4 linked regions of the Homo sapiens genome follow. The protein of the gene in region 2 purifies or fractionates together with the protein of the main gene of each other region. This does not show direct contact. Each region holds a gene or a part of one and is shown on either strand. Other genes may lie near its edges.

Region 1 (4,943 bases), on a different chromosome or scaffold from region 2:
TTTTCCCAGACGGTGACTAGACATGACCCCGTCCCCTGATTTGTCATCTCTGCAGGACTCATAGATACACAGGGCACGGGACAATTCACCAGGGGGCCAGCCCTTGCAGGCCTTGGTATCCAGCAGGGCTGCTGAGTCCAGCCTGAGCCCACATCCACAGTCCCACTTACCACAGGACGTGCCCACTGACCTGCCCTGGGGCCACCTCCCACGGACAGCAGCACTCTGACCCACTGCGTCCCGTAAATGCACAGTGTTCCTAAACCCCGCTGAAGCTGTTTTATGAACGTAGCCTATCTGGACCTGTTACTCCACCTCAGATCACCTCTAGACCACTTGAAGGTAAAGCCTTTGTGAACATGTTCCTGACTGCCGCCAGCAGGGTGAACACTGGGCATCGGCCGCCAGTCTCACTGAGGCCTACAGGAGCCCTAGGCCTACCTCCACAGCCCAGCATCGCCACAGCCCAGTGAAATGACCCCGAGTCCTCTGAGCCCCACAGGTCGAGACCCCCGACCAGCTCAGCTGCTCCCCGGGACAGGACAACTCACACAGCCTGGGTCCTCTGCCCACAAGCGAGGCAGGCAGGTGGGCCCAAGCTCAAACGCCCCCACGAAGCGAAGCAGCAGGGGGTAGGCAGGCAGGAAGGATGGCAAGCACACAGCCATGCATGAAGCACCCTGATGGGCCACGCTGGGCACCTGCCCAGGCCGCTGCTCTCCTGCAATCCACCCTCTGCCTGCTAACGTTCAACTCCTATTCACCTTCGAGATTCACCTCAGACACCACCTCCACTGCAGACCTTCTCTGCTCTAGACAGTCTACAAAAGCCCCACACCATCCTACCCTGTTCTCCTCCAGCACATGGCTCATCCTCCCGCATGGCTCCAAGCTCCCCAGGGGCACAGTCTGGGTCATCTTGAACCCCCTACTAAGGATGTGGGAAAGGGCAGCCCTCATCGACCACCTCTGTGGAGCTCTGGGTAGTGCCAAGCGCCTCCCCAGCATTCGCTCATGCATGCCTCTCGTTATTTACCACATTTCATCAAATCTAAGATGCGGCAGGTGGCGCCATCTTGGTCCTAGCGGAAGGTGTCCACGGGTTTTCCACGACTCCATCTCGAATACCAGCTGGCTGACAGCGACTATGAGACGCCACTGACTGAAAGACGCACCTCAGTTTCAGAGAAGTCACAAGGTGGAAATGCGTGCCTCTTAGAATCAATGAAGTAGGGTGCGTCCACTTCACAGTTGAGAAAACAGCTTCAGAGGGGCTACAAGTTGCTTGAGGTCCCACAGCTAGGAAGCTGGCATGCGAACTCAGCTGACCGAGCCCTGGCTCCTAACCACCTCTCCACACAGCCTCCTCTCAGCCCCTGGGCCTGGCTGGACAATCAACTCTGGCGACCACCCCTATTGGTCACAATCATCCATGGCTCCGACAGCGCCTGCCACGACGGGAGGCTGGGTGTTGTCTGGACAGCGCCCCCTTCAGGCAGGCCCGAGTGCCAGTTCCTTCGCAAGCAGGCTCCCTTCTCGGGAATCAGGCTGGAAGCAACAGGCATGGGTCAGCAAAGCTGCTCCCACGCGCTAAAAAACCCTGTCCATCCAGGCAAGACCCAGGAACACGCGGCTGAAAAAACACACGGGGAGGCCTCCAAATCAGTGAGAAAAAGACCAACACCTTTTGCCACTACCTCCCACAAGCCCTGTTTGGACCAAGGAAATGTGGACAGGGACAGGGACAGTCTATCTGCTCCCGTCCTGGACCGTGGCCTGTACAAACAAGTGGTCAGAAAGGGCACTCAGCGGATAGAGCGGAGACATCAGGAGAGTCCTTAGGGGTCCGATCTTTGCTGTTTCTCACCAAAAGGAAAGAGAGGTGCACACAAAGACATCCACTGCAGTTTTATTTAAGAGGTGCAAATCTGGAGGCCATGTCCAGAAGTCCAGCGATGGCGGGGACAGACTGCAGAGTGCCCCTCTGCAGAGTGTCCCCAGGGCACAAGGGGAGTGAGGAGGGGGCTGAGCTGGTGCAGAGGCTTCTCCGACAATGTGGGGGGCTGCCTGCAGCTGCAGCCTGGGGACATGGTGCATCCCCACCCATCCAGGGCCTGCTCTTCACTGGCTCCTGCTCTACCTGCCCACTCACTCACTCACTGATCAACAGATGCTGGCAGAAATGGCTGTGTCCCTGGCCTTGAGAAGCAGATGCAGCTCCCTGTCCCCAGAGGCCTACAGTCATATGGTACCTCCACAGGCTCGCTTGGCTGCGCTACAGGAGGCAGCGTCAGGGAAGCTTTCTCACCGTGATATAACCTCCCTGGCTTTTATGTAATAAAATGCAACCAGAAATCCTTAGTCAAGAGTCTGACAGAAGCAAAATGGGCAATCATCCTGGCACCTAACCCCATCGCTCCACGCTCAGGAATTCTCTTCCACATCTCACAGGTGTGACCTCAGTGTGCTGCTCTGCGTTGGGCCTTTTGCCTTAACTTGAATGCTTCTCCCCTCTTCCTGCCCAGTCTTCCTGTCCCTGCTGGGAGGGCTGCTGAGCATTCTGCACCACAGCCGACTCTCCCTCTCATCCTCCGATGTTGCAGTTGCAGCCCGTGTTTTGGCAGTGGTGAGCATTTCACCTCCCCTTCCCGGTATCTTATCCCTCTAAGAGAAAATCCCCACCAGTGGGGTTACCAGGTCAAGGGGTGGGAATGTTTTTCTGGCTCTTAAAACATCGGGTTGAACTGTTTTCCCAAGACCTCACACCAAGTTCTGCGTCTCCAGGAGCCCGGGCAGGCGGCGTCCTTTCCTGCGTGTCCCGAGCCTCGGCTCCACTCGGGACGGCACACCCTCCCCTCTTCCGTGGGGGCCGGGCCAGCAGACACGCTCATGAGACCTGCTTCACTCACTCATCTCCGAGGATGCCTGGGTTCAGAGGTGAAAGCCCTTTGAAAACGCTAAGATAGTGGGCAGACGAATGGGCCTGGTCTTCCATGGGTCCACAGGGACAGAGATGGCCCATCTTGGCCCCACAAACATGGTGTTCTGGGGCTGGGTCACCCCACAGAGATGAGGCAGTGATAAAAGCAAGCTTTTCCCTGCACAGGGATTCGGGCTCCAGACAGTAAAGTCACAAGCCCGGCTTCCTGTAACCAGGAGCCAACCTGCTTGTGCTGCCGGTGAGGGAATGGGTCCCATGAGCCAACAGCCCCGAGCCTGTTCAGAGGGCAGCCTCAGGGCCTGTCAGACACCCTGCGGTCTCCTAGAGGAGCTGGATGTGGGCATCAGAGCAATTGGGAGTCCTCACCAAGCAAGCAACAGCTGGCATCAGGCCAGGCACCCCTGCCATGTGTCCCCCCGCGAGGACCAGCCTGCAGAAGGCACTGCCCTCCCTGTGTCTGACCCTGTTGGAAGCAGGTGCTGGCACCTCTCCCCCAACCCCAGCCCAGCCAGGGGGCCCAGGCAGGGCTGTGTGGCTCCACTAGAAGCAAGATACATACACGATTACCTTGGTTAGAGAGGATGGGCTGGGGCAGGGAGGCAGATGCGGGAGCCACAGTGGGAGGGGAGCTGCTGGGTCTGATGCAGGGGGCAGCTGAGAGCCGGGAGTCTTCACCACCCTGAGGACGAGTGCTTGAGTCAGCCCGGGAGAGAAGAGGAAGCACAGAGCTCCCCAAGGCCAGGGGTGTGAGGAGGGAGCGCAACGGTTCCCACCAACTGGGTGGTAAAGATGGTCTCATCATATCCTTAGAGCAGGAACTACCACTGTCCCCACCCCACAGAGAACAGAGAGGCCGCGACTTGCCCGAGGTCATGCAGCCAGGGAGGGGCGCAGCTGGGACTCGGCAGCCCTGAGCAGTCCCATGGCCCAAGCCCCCCAAACTGGCTCCTATCCCGGCTGGCTCTGCACCACTGCCCTCCCACCTGCCACACAAACCCACCTTCTTCTCTGGGTTGCTCAGTTTGGACTTGACCTCCTTGGCTTTCTGAATTGCTTTCAGCACTTCCACAGTGTCCAGCTCCTTCTCTGTGGTCACTGTGTCATCCAGACAGACCTAGAGCATCCAGAAAGTGGCTATCAGCATGGGGACTGGTGATGGCTATCAGCATGGGGACTGGTGATGGCTATCAGCATGGGGACTGGTGAGCATGGCAGGAGGATGGTAGGGCTCTGCTGAGGAGGAGGCGTGAGCACCTGCTGTGGGCCAGGCCACGTGAGGACACCATAGGCTGAGGGAGGCTCAGCCTGCTCAGAGGCGGCTCTTCACTACTCATGGAAGTGACCTGGGAATGCCTTGGAGGGGTCCAGGGAGGTCTCACATCTGTCTCTGGAGTCCCTCACCAAGAACAGGAGGCAGCAAGCTCTTGGGCAGCTGGGACTAGGGTAAGGGGGCAACTTGAACTAAGCCCCCAGTTAGAGGTGGGAGGCAGACTCTCAAAAGAGCGATGGGAGAGCCTCCTGGGTAGGGGAACCAGCGGCAGGAGAGGGCAGGGCCCCCGCCTGCAAATGTGGGAGGGAGTGGTGGCTGGCAGGCAGTGGGGGGTTGGGTAGGGTGGTTGAATGAGGGAAGGTCCCAAGGGCCTGGACAGGAGCTGACACTCTGTGGCCTGGGAGCTTCCCAAAGTCTGCAGCCCAGGAGGGGAGGAGATGGCATCTCATGGTCTTGTGACTGTGTGGAGGAAGGGGCACTTGCGGCCACAAAGAGGGAGGTGGGACACAAATAGACTTCCAGGTATTTTCTGACCTGGGATTTTGGGAGAACAGAAGGTCCAAGGACCAATCAGAGCATCACGGGGACTGCTCCAGGCCCAGGCGATGGGTGAACCTGGTTAAGGGTGTCTGGTCAGCATCGTGGCAGGTGCACAGACACCGCGAGGGGCAGCAGACACCAGGCTGGGCTACACTGGCAAAGGCAAACCCTTTGGGTTTACAGTCAGGCACT
Region 2 (4,943 bases):
CCGAAGTGGGAGGATCACTTGAACCCAGGAGTTCAAACCCAACCTGGGCAATATGATGAGACTCCCATCTCTACAAAACAGTGTGGTGGCACATGCCTGTAATCCAGCTATTTGGGGGCTGAGGTGGGAGGATCACTTGAACCTGGGAAGTTGAGGCTGCAGTGAGCCGTGATCACACCACTGCACTCCAGCATCGGTGACAGAGCAAAACCCTGTCTCAAAAAAAAAAAAAAAAAAAATATTCCCCCAAAACATCACCCTGGCTACAGGGAGAATTAGATTGAAGAGTCAAGACCAGATAAGGGAAAAATAGCAACCACTGTAACCAGACTAAAGATGACAAAGAGTAGGACAAGAGTAGTAGCAGTGGGGCTAGAAATGTCTGGATATGGGAAAGATTCAGGCAGCAAAAAGGAACTGGCTGTTTGTTGAATATGGAAGTAAGGAAGAGAGAAGAATCAAGAATGCCTCTCAGATTTCTGGCCAGAATAGCCACATGGACAGTGATGTCCTTTAATACAAAAGGGAGCACAGGGGGACAATAGCGGCATCTGAGGTACTCTCAGGAACTCCAAGTGGTGATGTTGAGCAGGCAGATACTATGTAAGTCTAGAGTTTAGAAGAGAGGGCTGAAGAGTACAGAAGATATAAATGTGTGAGATGAAAACATATAGATAACTAAAGCCATGGGACCAATTGAGATTGCCCAGGAAGACAGCACGGAAGAAAAGAGGGTTTAGGACGACAGGGCACTGCAACACTTGAAGTTTGAAAAGGAGCTTACACAGGAAATAATGGAGAACGGTCCAGAAATACAGAAAGAAAAGCCTGAGATGAGACGCACGTGTGCTCTTGCAGAAGGCTAGGGAACAGGAGAGTGTTGCAAGTTTAAATGCTGCTGAGGGCGGCATAAGTTGAGGAAAAGTAGTATCCAGCAATTCTACTGGCTATTTTGTGGTAGATTGAGAAATGAAAGAGCTTGGGAAAGGGAGACTGAACAAAGAAAACTTCCAACAAGTTTGGCTAAGAAGGGAAGGAGATAGAGTAGTACCTCTCAGGAGAGTAAGACTGAGGGTTTTTTTGGCTTAAGAAGCAACAGATTTGATAACATTTAATTACTGACTGGAAGGAACCAGAAAAAAAGGGGAGCAGTTATTTGTGCAAAACAAACAAACATGGACAGGGTTCCTTACAAATGGACAGGATACAGTGCACAGGTGGAAACAGACCTTTTCCACTACAATACGAAGAAGAAAATGACAGGATCCTGCAAGTGTATATAGGTCTGTGGATTTGATAGCAGGAAGCTAAGTTAGCTCCACTCTAATGGTTCTATTTTCCTTACAAAATAGAAGGCAAGATCATCTGTTAAAAGTGAAGAAGAAGAAAAGGAATCTGGGAAGTCTGGAGAGAAGGTGTGAAATAGTTAATACAGAGAGGAAGAGAGTAAGCTACACAGAGAAACAAAGAGTATTACCAGACAGTGGGGAAGCACAGACGAGGTTCACAGTGCTTCCAATATGCCCAGTTTGTTACCTTCTTTAGCACTGTTCAGCAGCCCATGAGATGATAGTTGGATTCATCTAGAGCTGCAATCTCTGTCAATGAATTCAATAAATGGACCAAGGGACAAGGAGGTGTGAAATATTAGCAAGACTGTCTGGAACAACGGAAAGGAAGTTGTTGGCAGAGCTACCAGCTGAACTGGGGAGCAGGGGTAAAGCAGTAGCAGCAAAGTCTTTTATTCACAGCTCAAGTTCAAAATTGATAAGCAGCCTCCAAGAATATCTGAGAAAGCAGTTCAAAAGTTCATATTCCTCAATATTTTTGTGCATTTACTGACACACTAACATAATGCCGGTAACTACACTACAAATTTAATTACCCTTATTTGAAACAAACATGCAGATTCCCTAATTATCTCAAGGAGGTCTCACCAAATTCTTAAAAAAAAAAAAAAAAAAAAAAGTGACTTAGTGTTCAAGGCAAAAGACATTACCTCATGCAGACAGGAGGCACTTAACAAATTCCTGCTAAAGGAAATGATTTAGACTTTAGATAGTCCCAAACCCTCAACAAAAAGCTTACTAGTTGGTTAGTCTCTGTGTTATTAGTTCATGAAAATGTTAGTATTATTTAGCAATAAAAACAGCAAAAGAAAGTTTAGGTAGTGAAAATATGCCACACAACACTTTTTAAAAAGAAGGGGAGGGGAATTTGTAATAAATGAAAATCAAGTAAATAATAGGGTGCGAAAGTGTATGTGGTGGATAGGGCAAAAGTGTATGCAACAGAAAGTGCTTTAAATACTACATAGTTTTATATAAATACAGGTGAAAACTGTGGAGACAAGTATGCTTTTTTTCCATGTTGCTATTCTCCGCATATTGTATTCATTCCATTAAATACCATATAAAATAAAGCTTTATTTCCAAATTTTAAATAAGCTTAAATAAAGCTGGAGCTAGAAAAGCTGTTACATACAAAGTCTTCCTTGGCACCAAGTCGATTTTGCCTGTCTTTTTCTAGGAGTTCTTCCAGAATGGACCAGGCTGTAAGACTCACTCCTGGCCTCAAACTTAGGGGTTTGTGAAGGATATTGTCATACATTTCAGCAACATCTCGGCAATAAAAAGGAGGCTGGAAAAAAAAAAAAGCAAAATAAACTTAGTGGTAAACAAATTATGCGCAAATGGGGTTAAAATGGCTTTAATCTTGAGGGAGCAGTCAGTTGAAAAAATGTATGGACCTCTTGGGACGTGTAGACACCTGCAGTGTGGCTTCCTGAAGCAAAGAGATTCTAAAACCGAACACATCACAGAGCTTAATAAGTGTTCACTGAATGAATTAGGGCCAGTTTGTTCAATAGCACCTTGTAGACAGCTGTTAAATTATATACAACTTGTAGTAGTACCTGTTTTAGAGAAAACCACCAACCTTATCATAGGCATAATGACAGAATCATTGGAAATAGAAGTTCAAGACAGATCAAACATTAATTTCAGACTTGGGAATAAACTCACTGAAACAAAGGGATTTCTAGTAGAGATGGAGGCCTGAAGATAATGTTTCTTAGGTACTTATGACAGAGATAATATTATGACTGTACTTTGCAGAATTAAAAATGCCACCGCAACAGCCAAAAGACTTGGGGTATAGCTTCAACACAAGCATTAGCTAGTTAATCATCTAATTATAAAGGTTTAAAGTAAAAATAAAGACCAGGCGTGGTGGCTCACGCCTGTAATCCCAGCACTTTGGGGGGCTGAGGTGGGCAGATTGCTTGAGGCCAGGAGTTCAAGACCAGCCTGGGCAACATGGTGAAACCGTCTCTACTGAAAAAATAAAAAACCAGCTGGGCATGGTGGTGTACGCCAGTAGTCTCATCTACTCAGGAGACTGAGGCATGAGAATCGGTTAAACCTGGGAGGCGGAGGATGCAGTGAGCTGAGATTGCGCCACTGCACTCCAGCCTGGGCAACAGAGTGAGACCCCATCTCAAATAAATAAAGTAACAACTTTTGAGAAAAAAAATGAGCTGTACAGGTTTCTGTACTCTGGGAATAAGAGGAAAGAAGATTATCATGCTACTCAGGTTCTATCTGCAAGGTTGTAATATGTAACCTACAAAACTACTTCCTTTTGAATTAATGTGTCCAGAGCACCAGAAACATTTTTCCAAAGAGGGAATTACCATGTAAAATGTTACTGTTCTTTTTTAAAAAACAAAAACAAAAACAAAAAAAAACCCAATTTATTCACCAGAGGACTGGTCTCTAATATTTTACCCTTGTGGGTTTGTTTTTACCTTTTAAATATTAGTTACCAGTATTTTTATAAAATAAGATGAATCTGACTTAAAACATTAAAATGACATTTTTTTCTTTTCAGTCTCTTTTTGTGAAAATTACAAAAGTAATATATGCTTGTTGTAACAAATCCAAACAATACAGAAGTTTACAAAATAAAAAGTGACGCCAGGCACAGTGGCTCACACTGGAAATCCCAGCACTTCGGGAGGCTGAGGTGGGCAGATCACTAGAGCTCAGGAGTTTGAGACCAGCCTAGGCAACATGGCGACACCCTGTCTCTACTATAAATAAATAAATAAATAAATAAATAAATAAATAAATAAATAAGCAAGCTAGGTGGGGTGGTGCATGCCTGTAGTCCAAGCTACTCAGCAGGCTGAGGTGGGAGAAGCATCAGAGCCTGGGAAGTCAAGGTTGCAGTGAGTCGTGATCATTCTACTACACTCCAGCCTGAGCAACACAGTGAGACTCTGTCTCAAAAAAAGTAAAAATAAAAATTAAAGTATACATAATTTTTAAAGTTAAGGGAGTTTTATAGGCTTGCCACTTTTCCTTTCCTTTGTGTAGGAAAGAAAAAGCTTATCTTTTAAAATATGACTTTTTTTGTTTTTTGTTTTTTTTTGAGACGGAGTCTCGCTTTGTTGCCTATGCTGGAGTGCAGTGGCATGATCTCCACTCACTGTAACCTCCGCCTCCCAGGTTCAAGTGATTCTCCTGACTCAGCCTCCCAAGTATCTGGGATTACAGGGGCATGCCACTGTGCCAGGCTAGTTTTTGTATTTTTAGTAGAGACGAGGTTTTGCCATGTTGGACAGGCTGGTCTTGAACTCCTGACCTAAGGTGATCTGCCTGCCTTGGCCTCCCAAAGTGCTGGGATTACAGGCGTGAGCCACTGTGGCTGGCCAAAATAAAACTTCATTTTAAAACAATAAAAGTTTGATTAATAAAATGTATGTTTTAAATGTTCTCTTTTGAATCAACTGCATTTTATGTGCAATGATATATTTTCAAAGTCCTCTAAATAAATTTGAAGGATTCTGAAATATCAAGATGGCAAATAAATAGTGCTTAAAGGGAAATCAGGTATAAAGTGGTTTTCCAATGTTCTAAGTCAGTAGCATAACCAGAAAA
Region 3 (4,899 bases), on a different chromosome or scaffold from region 2:
CTCCTATATCTTCTGTAAACTGAGATGTAGGTCTATAAGCTTGATTAGATTTAAGCAGAACAGCCTTGGGAAGAATAAATACTTCATTGGTAGTGATGAACTTCATCTTGAAACATGTCTATTCCTTGGCCAAGTTGAGTGTGCAGATTCTGTGTGCTCTAGGCAGATTTATGGTTCCCAAATAGATCAATGCAAAATGAATCAAAATAATTCGTGTTATTAGAAATCCAATTGTTTTAAAATCATACATTTTGGATTGTGAGAATTGTGTTACCCAGCTCTTCTTCAAAAAAGATTTTACCTTGAAAAGCTAGAGCTGGCAAGTCAACACCAAAACTAAAATAAAATGAGGTGCATTAATGAAACAAAACAAAAAACAAAGTAGGTATTTAAACCCCACCAACAAAGTCACCATCACTATTATTTCATAAAAGAAAACTCATTCGAATAATCCCTAAAAAAGTGGAAGATACTTCAAGTAATCATTCCCAAGAAAGGACAGCTGGCAACTGCATGCCAAAAATTATCCTTATTTTTTTCACTTTGTCATATATCAGTAAGCACTTAAGGATTAACATCGGTCTGCAAACTGGTACTTGATGCAAGGTGCTTTACTTCTTGGCCTGATTTTTAATCCATGAATGAAGTTGTTCTAGCTACTTCATGGGAATGTTCATTCGATAAACACTAACCAAACACTTGTTATACTATTAAGCAGAGAAATTCAGGAGCAAATGAGGTCACGTATATGAAAACACTGCATACAGTGCCTTGTAGACTACAAAGCATCATAAAAATATGTGGTATTATTACAAATGTATATATTACATATATAATTATATAATAATATATATTACATATACATATTATATATATAATTACAAACTGATTCCTAAAAAGAGATTACCCAACATACGGTTTAGTGACTTAGTAATTTTCTATATTCATGCTATCACAAATAGTATTCAGAATACTTTAGAATGCTTATTTTCTTTTTTTTTTTAAAAGAAAATAGCTATATTTGTGATGTAGCTCATGATTCTGCCATTTTCTGCTTTATGGGAACTGAGGATGTTACTATTCCCTCAGATGGTTATGACTCCCAAGGGAAAGTTATTAAGCCAGAAACTGCTGCTATAATTACCAGTACGTAGACTCTGGATTCTAAAAAAGAAAATGTCACAGGGTCTAAAAGGCAGGTTCAGACAAAGAGAAAATTTTATTTTCTTATTCTTGAAATGACTGTACGATTTTTCAATGTTAAAGTTCACTTTCAAGTATGATCAATAACAAGACATCAAATGTAAAAATTATGCTGTATTATCATTTTCTCCATTGCTTCTTAAACCACTGAAAGTAATTTCACAATTCACCACATTTAGGCATCTTCTTTTTCACTTTCTTCATTTTTTACTTCTTTAGGCAACAATGGATCAATCTTCAGTAATAAACCTTCACTTGTTGAACTACGAAGGAAAGCACGTACCACAAAGGGACCTGGAAACAAAAACGAGAATCAACTTTGATTTTTATATCGCAATACCACCTCATGAGCAAATAAAGTAGGTCCTCACTTAATATTGTCACTAGGTTCTTGGAAACTGCAACTTTAAGCAAAACAACTTATAAAGAAACCAATTGTACCGTAGGCTAATTAATAAGAGTTAAGTTTCTCAGGCATATTTCTAGTCACAAAAATATCACCAAGCTTCTAAATAAAGAGCTCAAACACTTCTAATATTAACCATTGAAATAAATTTGAACTATAAATACATTTAAGATTAATAAAAGCAATAATTATTTACCCAACTGTGGGTGAATCAGAGTGACAGGAGTCATAGTGGTGGTGACTTAAATCAAAGACTAAGTGTTTGCAAAGTGAAAACTGTAAGAAGCGCCTTCTGCCACCGTGCAGTTCAAAAACAAACTAACAAATATGGTTGCCTCACTGAGTGCTTTCATACCACATCATTTATTGTCCTGCATTTGTATGATTATCATATACTTTGCCCATTTTTATTTTACAATAGTTTGTATTCATTAATTCATCTTCCAACTCCCTTATTCCAGTCCAGGGTTGTGGGAGGCCAAAGCCTATCCTGGCAGGTCAGAGCATAGGTGGGAATGATCTCCGGATAAGCAGCATCTCATTGCAGGGCACACGTACACAACCCACACACTAACTCACACCGGGATCATGCAGACATACCAATTAACCTAACATGCCACCTTTGGGATGCGGGAGGAAACCGAAGTACCCAGAGAATCCATGCAGACATGAGGAGAACATGCAAATTCCACACAGACAGTGGCTCTGGCCAGGAATCTATTTTTTTCTTATCAATGTTATAATAAAATAACATTGAACAAAAGGATGTTATTCAAGGACCTGCTGTACAAATATACAACAGGAAAACTTATAGAACTCATGTCATATTTTCAGTGAAAAGTACTGTATTACTGAACTAATATTTTGAATTATAAGAAGGGGAAGATAGTTTCATTTCTAGAATAGAAGACAAACTAGTTGTACTCTAGAATATTAGAGATTTATCCTTCAAACTACACACACTCACTAATAATTCATTTCTCTCTTCCAGAAGATGATCACCTAGAATTTATTTTATTGCAAAGGCAACAGTGAAGGGAGCAGGTGGTGATATTTACATTTGATGGAAATGTTATAAATATTTATTTAAAACAGTCAGCACAGATGCTACCTTTGTGTTACCACACAGTTGGTAAAATTCCCTAAAAACTAAAATGCTTTTCATAAGAACAACGTTAAGTGGCTTCATTTAAAATAGCAAAAAGACAGCCGGACACCGTGGCTCACACCTGTAATCCCAGTACTTTGGGAGGCCAAGGTAGGTGGATCACCTGAGGTCAGGAGTTCGAGACCAGCCTGGCCAACATGGTGAAACCCCACCGCTACTAAAAATACAAAAATTAGCTGGCATGGTGGCAGGTGCCTGTAATCCCAGCTACTTGGGAGGCTGAGGCAGAAGAATTGCTTGAACCCGGGAGGCGGAGGTTGCAGTGAGCTGACATCAAACCACTGCACTCCAGCCTGGGTGACAGAGTGAGACTCCGTCTCAAAAACTAAAATAAAATGGCAAAAAGAGAATCACAACATTTAAACATGCTAAGGGGCTTCATATGAAATAGCAAAAAGAGAATAACAACATTTTGAGGATTTACTGTCCATCATCTACTCCTACTATTGTCTCAAGAGGATCCTGTACTGAAATCAAAGTTATCTGTGGACTCTAAGAATCCATACACATCCAATTACTTAGTAGTATGGCCATATTTAGGGCAAGAAAATTAACAAGGGTGGTATTTATTCACCAGTATGGTTAACTCCCAAAGAAGGTAAAAAATAGCTTAAGATTGTGTTTTAATTATAAACTTGGTTATAAAACTAAACCTGACAAATTCTTATCATGGTAAGCCTACAAATGAGTAGTCAATTGAGTATAATGGACCCTTGCTTGGCTTCAAGCAGCCACAAGTGAAATTTGTCTGAGGAAGGAATTTGAACAGCACACAACGCAATGATAAAGAAACTGGATGCCTGTGTTCTAGCCTACTACACAGCTTCCACATCTCAATTGAGTTGAGTGATTCTCTATGAGTCACCTCATTTATAAATGACTCTCATGACATAATAAAATGATCTTCTTTCTGTCCTGTAATAAATAAATAAGATTAAGAAAACTAATTGCTAGTGCCAATGACAAAGTGAATGATCTGGTTTCAAAATATCATTTTAGAAATAATTTTAGTCCCTAACATCATTGTAAGTTTAAAGCAATCAGTTACAGTTTTCTTTCAAACTTTGCTACATCTATTATTAGTAATAATGTGGGAATCTACAAAGGTTTCAGGATGCATTCCTTATTAATGCTAGAGAAATCCTTTGGAGAATTAAATTTTATTTATTTAATCCCTGGAAATATAAAACTTGCATGTTAACTTGATTTTTTATTTAATATTTTACATTTTGCTATTATACTTGCATGTTAATTTGACTTTTTTCTTCATATTTTACATTTTAAAGTTTCACAGGGTCATAGGGAAGTCTACCCTCAGCAAACCACTTACCCAAATTCAGCGGTCTGTGCCTACAAACTTCATTAATAACTGCTTGCAGATTGGCAGCTATCTGGTCACTTGACATATCCAACTGAAAGAAAATAATATACATAACATTAATGATGAGAAAGCAAGAAGATAATAAATTATTCTAGACTATTTTTCAAATAGTCAACCAATGCAAATTATCTAGTAAATGACCCTACTGTGAAAGGGGAAAACCTCTATAGCTCTTTGTTTCGAATGCCACATTTACATGTCTTCACATGTCAAGATTTAATAGATTTATAGAACATATTATAGCAAACTGAAGTTGAAGTTTTTCCACTTGAGAATCCTTGACTTCCAAGTAATTTCCCTAAAGCATATCTTGGAGCAGAATACATCATTCCCTACACGCACCCCCCAAGAAAACAGTGACATTTTCTCATGAAGTTTGTTGATTTAAAGGAAACTAAGAAAATGTCTAGAAATTAATGTTTTCTTGAGTCCAAAATAAAACTGCTTGCTACATGCATTCAGATAATACATATCTCACACAGAGACAATTTCAGGATGTTGTGCTAACATTCTAATTTTTCAAACACTATGCAATAACAATTATCTTGTCATTTAGCAGTAAGTAAATATACAGTGAATGAGTTCTATTCATAAAACTCCTAAACCCAAATTACACCCTTGAAAAGTCTTTCTGTTTATTATTCAAATTCAATTACTCTTATTCTTCCTAAATATTCCAGTTAAAATCCGTTATATTACATTCAAATGTTTACAGGATTTTGCACTGTGCCAAATAAATCA
Region 4 (4,943 bases), on a different chromosome or scaffold from region 2:
TACAAATATTAGCCAGGCGTGGTGGCGGGCACCTGTAATCCCAGCTACTCAGGAGGCTGAGACAGGAGAATCACTTGAACCTGGGAGGTGGAGGTTGCAGCGAACTGAGATTGCGTCACTGTACTTCAGCCTGGGAGACAGAGCAAGACTCCGTCTCAAAAAAAAAAAAAAAAAAAAAGTATGTTTAACATTTTAACTAGTAGAGCCTGAATATGATTTGTTCACATCTTTGGAGTCATCAGCTTCCTCACTGAATGTGGCATGGCTATCATCAAACATCAACTATAACCTGGAGGAGCACAGAAAAATAAGTGAATATTTCCTGTAGCTAATGTGACAGCACTTAGCTCTCAAATTGCAAAGCCCATAATTATAATGCCCAGTCATCTCATTTATTTTCTACAAGTAAACAATCACACCAAGTTGCCTTTCCTCCACCTTAAATGTAAAGAATTACAGAACGAAAAGCTACAAAAGCATCCTGAAGTTAAACTTCCATGAATGGCAACAAAAAGAACAGGTACTTATTGTTTGTACTTAATAAATACATCATCAACATTAACTTTTTTTTCTTTTTTGAGACAGAGTCTCACTCCAGACTGGAGTGCAGTGGCGGGATCTCAGCTCACTGCAACCTCCGCCTCCCAGGTTTACGTGATTCTCCTGCCTCAGCCTCCTTAGAAGCTGGGATTACAGGCACACGCCATCACACCTGGCTAATTTTTGTATTTTTAGTAGAGTCAGGGTTTCACCACGTCGCCAGGCTGGTCTCGAACTCCTGACCTCAATGATCCGCCCACCTCGGCCTCCCAAGTGCTGGGATTACAGGTGTGAGCCATTGCACCCGGCCAACATTAACTTTTTAAAAGTAATTTCTGTTCTCAGCTGACAACACTGACTTATCCTGTGATAGTCATTTTGTTTTGTTTTTAAGAATGACTTTTTGACATTATGACAAATCTTAATGGTATACCTTACATTTAAGTTACCTACTCTAAAATACATTTGGTAATAGATATTAGAGAGTGTGGCAAAATTATACTCTCAGAAGAATTGGAAAAAAAAAAAAAAGATAACATATGCTGAAAGGAAAGACACGAAGAGAAAGAGAAACCAGAGAAAAGAACCAAGCAAGAATGGGAGCAAGGAGACATGGGCAGCTAGAAGAAAACAGGGTACAGGACCAAATTTGGAAAGGGCTGAGAAATGGAGGACACAAAACAGTAAAATCAATAGGAAAAAGGAAGATACATATACTACGAAGGGAAAAATCTAGGAAAGGGGAAAAAAAGGCTATTTCATTTATATACATGAATTCAGCCAATAAAGGTAAACACACGTAGAACTTACCTGGTTTTCCTCCTGTACAACTCTGTACTGTTCCTTCCAAATGGTGATTTTGGAAGCTTCATCTTTTCTCAGGGCTCGTTCCTTCTTCAGCTCTGGGCTCCAGAAGGTCTTGATGCTATTCATTGAAGAACTCAATTTGCTCTCCTTTACTTCCACATCCTTCCGCAAGAGATCATTTTCTCTTAATACTTCCTTCAGCTGTGTCTGCAGATCCATGATTGTGTTATCTCTCGCCTGACGAAGGGAGTGAGGTACAGTGGATGCCATACTCACAGGAGGGAGGTGATGCTCTCCAAATGCTATGGTGTCACTAGCAACCCCACTGCTAGCTATATTGGGGCTACTACCCATAGCAGTCATCCGAACACCGTAAGGCAGACGTCCCCCAGAACGGCCAAGTGTCATGGTGCTTTTAGGTGTTTCTGAACCCACATTTTCATGGTCACTTAGATACATAGGGCCAGAGGTGGCATAGGCAGCATTTAAAGATTGTATATTTTCCATTGAAAGGGTTTTCCCACTGCCACCTCCAACACTGCTTCCCGAACTCCCTCCCGTACTGTTGGTTCGACGGTGACCCAAGCGAGGGGAACGTGGAAGCCTGGGTGAACGCCCAGGGCTCTGGCTGCTCGGCTCCACCTTCCCAACAGAGCGGGCACTTCCATACATGGTTGCAAGGTCAGGAAAGGTGTGAGCAGAAAATCAACAACAACAACAACAAAAATGGGAACCTTGTGAGGTGTCTCTATGGCTACAAGTTGGTTTAAGGTTAATCAGAAGAAGGTCCCCAGCTGTCCAATCTTGAAGAAGTATCTTACACCATATCTGTAATGAAAAGATCACACATTAAATCCTCCAATAATAAATATTTCCCTTCTCAGAGACTTTCCATTACCCCCACTTAAAGAAGATCTAGCCCTTCTACCATGTATGTACTCACGCATTCAGAATGTGATTACAGCATAATGTACTCATAGTAAACAATATTTTAGAGATATTTTAGATGTCTCAAAACTGAACGCTGAAAACATACCATGCAACTGGAAAACAAACAAAAAAAGTGCCAAGTGCAATGGCTCATGCCTATAATCCCAGCGCTCTGGGAGGCCAAGGTAGGAAGATCGCTTGAGGCCAGGAGTTCAAGACCAACCTGGGATACATAGCAAGACCCTGTCTACAAAAAAGAAAAAGAAAAAAAAACAAGAAGTATAAAGATTGACAAGGAAAAGATTAAACTCAATGTCTGAATATCTGACTTGCTAACTGAAAACCCAAGATAATCAACTGACAAGTTATTAGAATAACAGAACTCAACAAACTGGTCAAACTCAATATCAATATATAAGTATCAATGTATACATCAGTAGTAACAACTAGAAAATGCAGTTTTTAATTTAAAGGAAATTTTAAATCCCATTCACAACAGCAACAAAACCATAAAAGTACTTTGATGTAAATCAACAGAAATGTGCAAGAATTTTGGGGGAAAAAAACTATAACATTTTACTGAAAGACATGAAAGAACACCTAAACAAAGTTATCTGTGTTCATGGATGAGAAGACAAACACTGCTAAGATTTAGTTCTTCCCCAACTACTTAGCACAATCCCAGTGAAAAATCTCTACAGGATTTTGCTAACCAGCTATAGATCCCTTCCTTTCACAGGTGTTGAAGGATTTTTCAAGTAACTCAACAAGCTGACTCTAAAATTCAAATGGAGAGTAAAGATACAAGAGTAACCAAACAATTTAAAATAGATGAACAAGGAAGGAAGACAGCCCTCAACAGCAACATAAATTACAAATCCATAATTCTTCATTTGTACTGCAAAAATCCAAAAACCTCTGAAAATAAGATTTTCCTTTTAACTCATCTAGCAGCAAACCTTGACCTGATCTGAGCTTACTTACTGTTTATATGTATCCCACATAGTGTGACTTCATATATTTCATTAAGAAAACAATGTGTGTGATTACTGGATACTACATAATGTCCACTAAGTATTACTGGAAAAAATTCCTGACAACAAAACCACATCTGACCTGCAAGGTTTCTTACAAAGTATTGTAGCCTTGTAAAACTATAATAACGAAAACTGTATAGTACTAGCCCAAGAACAGGGTCTAAATTATATATGGGAATTTAATATATGTTAAAAGTAACGTTTCCAAACAGTGAGTGATATGGTTTGGCTGTGTCCCCACTCAAATCTCACCTTGAATTGCAATCATCTTCATGTATCAAGGGTGGGGCCAGGTGTACTTAACTGAATCATGGGCGCAGTTTCCCCTCTACTGTTCTGGTGGTAGTGAGTGCGTCTCATGGGATCTGATAGTTTTATAAATTGGAGTTCCCCTGCACAAGTTCTCTTGCCTGTCGCCATGTAAGACATAATTTTGCTCCTCATTCGCCTTCTGCCATGATTGTGAGGTCTCCCCAGCCATGTGGAACTGAGAGTCCATTAAACCTCTTTCCTGGCAGGGTGCAGTGGCTTACATCTGTAATTCCAGCAATTTGGGAGACCAAGGCGGGTGGATCACCTGACATCAAGAGTTCGAGACCAGCCTGACCAACACGGCAAAACCCAATCTCACTAAAAGTACAAAAATTAACCAAGCATGGTGGCAGGTGCCTGTAATCCCAGCCACTCAGGAGGCTGAGGCATAAGAAGCTTGAACCCAGGCGGCAGACATTGCAGTGAGCCGAGATCGCGCCACTGCACTCCAGCCTGGGTGACAAGAGCGAGACTCCGTCTCAAAAAAAAAAAAAAAAAAAAACTTTCCTTTTTAAATTACCTAGTCTCGGGTATGTCTGTATTAGCAACATGAGAACAGACTAATACAGTGAGGAAATGAAAAATCACTCAATAAATGAAGTTTAAATACTTGTTGCTCTTTGAGAAACATAACGTATACTCGTCTTCACATAGTACACCAAAATAAATTCCATATACATTAAAGATATAAATTTTTTAAGCCATTAAAAGTACTAGAAGAAAATTTTGAAGAATATCCTTGTGAACTTGAGTTAGGAAAAGGCTTCTTAAATAAAAAACCAGAAGCAAAAACCATAAAGAAAAACAACCAACACACTTAATTATGTCAAAATGACAAAGTATTATACCAAAAAATGCTGTAAATAAAATTAAAAGATAAACCAAAAGCTAGGTGAAAAATACAGTGAACATAAGTATAATGATCTGTAAACAGAGTATGTAAAGAATTCCTACACGGGAAATGCCAATTTTGAAACAGCGATAATTAGAGGGAAGGAAACTTGTGTTATAAAGGGGAAAAATGTTTGTGGAGGCTTTAGCTCAACTTAGAAAGCTTTACACTCAAACTACCATAAAGCACCTGAATTTTTTTTTCAAAAAAGAAAACATGTTCATACTCTACAAGTATAACTAAAACAAATTTTAAAACCACAGGCAGTTGTCCCTTGGTATCTGCTGGGGACTGGCTCCAGTAGAACGTATCCAGATATCCAAGACTGCCCCAGACAACAAAAATCCCAGGATGCTCAAGTCCCTGATTCAAAATGACACAGTAATTGCATAAAACCTATGGATATCCTCCAGCATACTTTAAAT

What was found. Proteins that work in one complex are often made in the same cells at the same time.
Region 1: the proteins of SGK3 (region 2) and NISCH purify together in Homo sapiens (affinity purification with mass spectrometry, with the first as the bait; one large-scale study listed by BioGRID). This does not show direct contact.
Region 3: the proteins of SGK3 (region 2) and MRPL1 purify together in Homo sapiens (affinity purification with mass spectrometry, with the first as the bait; one large-scale study listed by BioGRID). This does not show direct contact.
Region 4: the proteins of SGK3 (region 2) and ERC1 purify together in Homo sapiens (affinity purification with mass spectrometry, with the first as the bait; one large-scale study listed by BioGRID). This does not show direct contact.

The regions. Positions count from the first base shown.
Region 1 is NC_000003.12:52,478,861-52,483,803, reverse strand, and holds part of NISCH (nischarin), read right to left. Parts: intron 4,056-4,943; coding exon 3,942-4,055; intron 3,621-3,941; coding exon 3,509-3,620; coding exon of another isoform or gene 3,285-3,508; exon of another isoform or gene 2,926-3,284; coding exon of another isoform or gene 2,906-2,925; exon of another isoform or gene 1,047-2,905; coding exon of another isoform or gene 1,037-1,046; intron 1-1,036. UniProt on the Homo sapiens protein: Acts either as the functional imidazoline-1 receptor (I1R) candidate or as a membrane-associated mediator of the I1R signaling.
Region 2 is NC_000008.11:66,844,890-66,849,832, reverse strand, and holds part of SGK3 (serine/threonine-protein kinase Sgk3), read right to left. Parts: intron 2,641-4,943; coding exon 2,485-2,640; intron 1-2,484. Other genes in the region: C8orf44-SGK3 (serine/threonine-protein kinase Sgk3), read right to left, coding at 2,485-2,640.
Region 3 is NC_000004.12:77,949,087-77,953,985, reverse strand, and holds the end of MRPL1 (large ribosomal subunit protein uL1m precursor), read right to left. Parts: intron 4,190-4,899; coding exon 4,108-4,189; intron 1,563-4,107; exon of another isoform or gene 1,498-1,562; coding exon 1,379-1,497; 3' UTR 1,201-1,378; downstream 1-1,200.
Region 4 is NC_000012.12:1,024,980-1,029,922, reverse strand, and holds part of ERC1 (ELKS/Rab6-interacting/CAST family member 1), read right to left. Parts: intron 2,176-4,943; 5' UTR 2,020-2,175; coding exon 1,351-2,019; intron 1-1,350. UniProt on the Homo sapiens protein: Regulatory subunit of the IKK complex. Probably recruits IkappaBalpha/NFKBIA to the complex. May be involved in the organization of the cytomatrix at the nerve terminals active zone (CAZ) which regulates neurotransmitter release.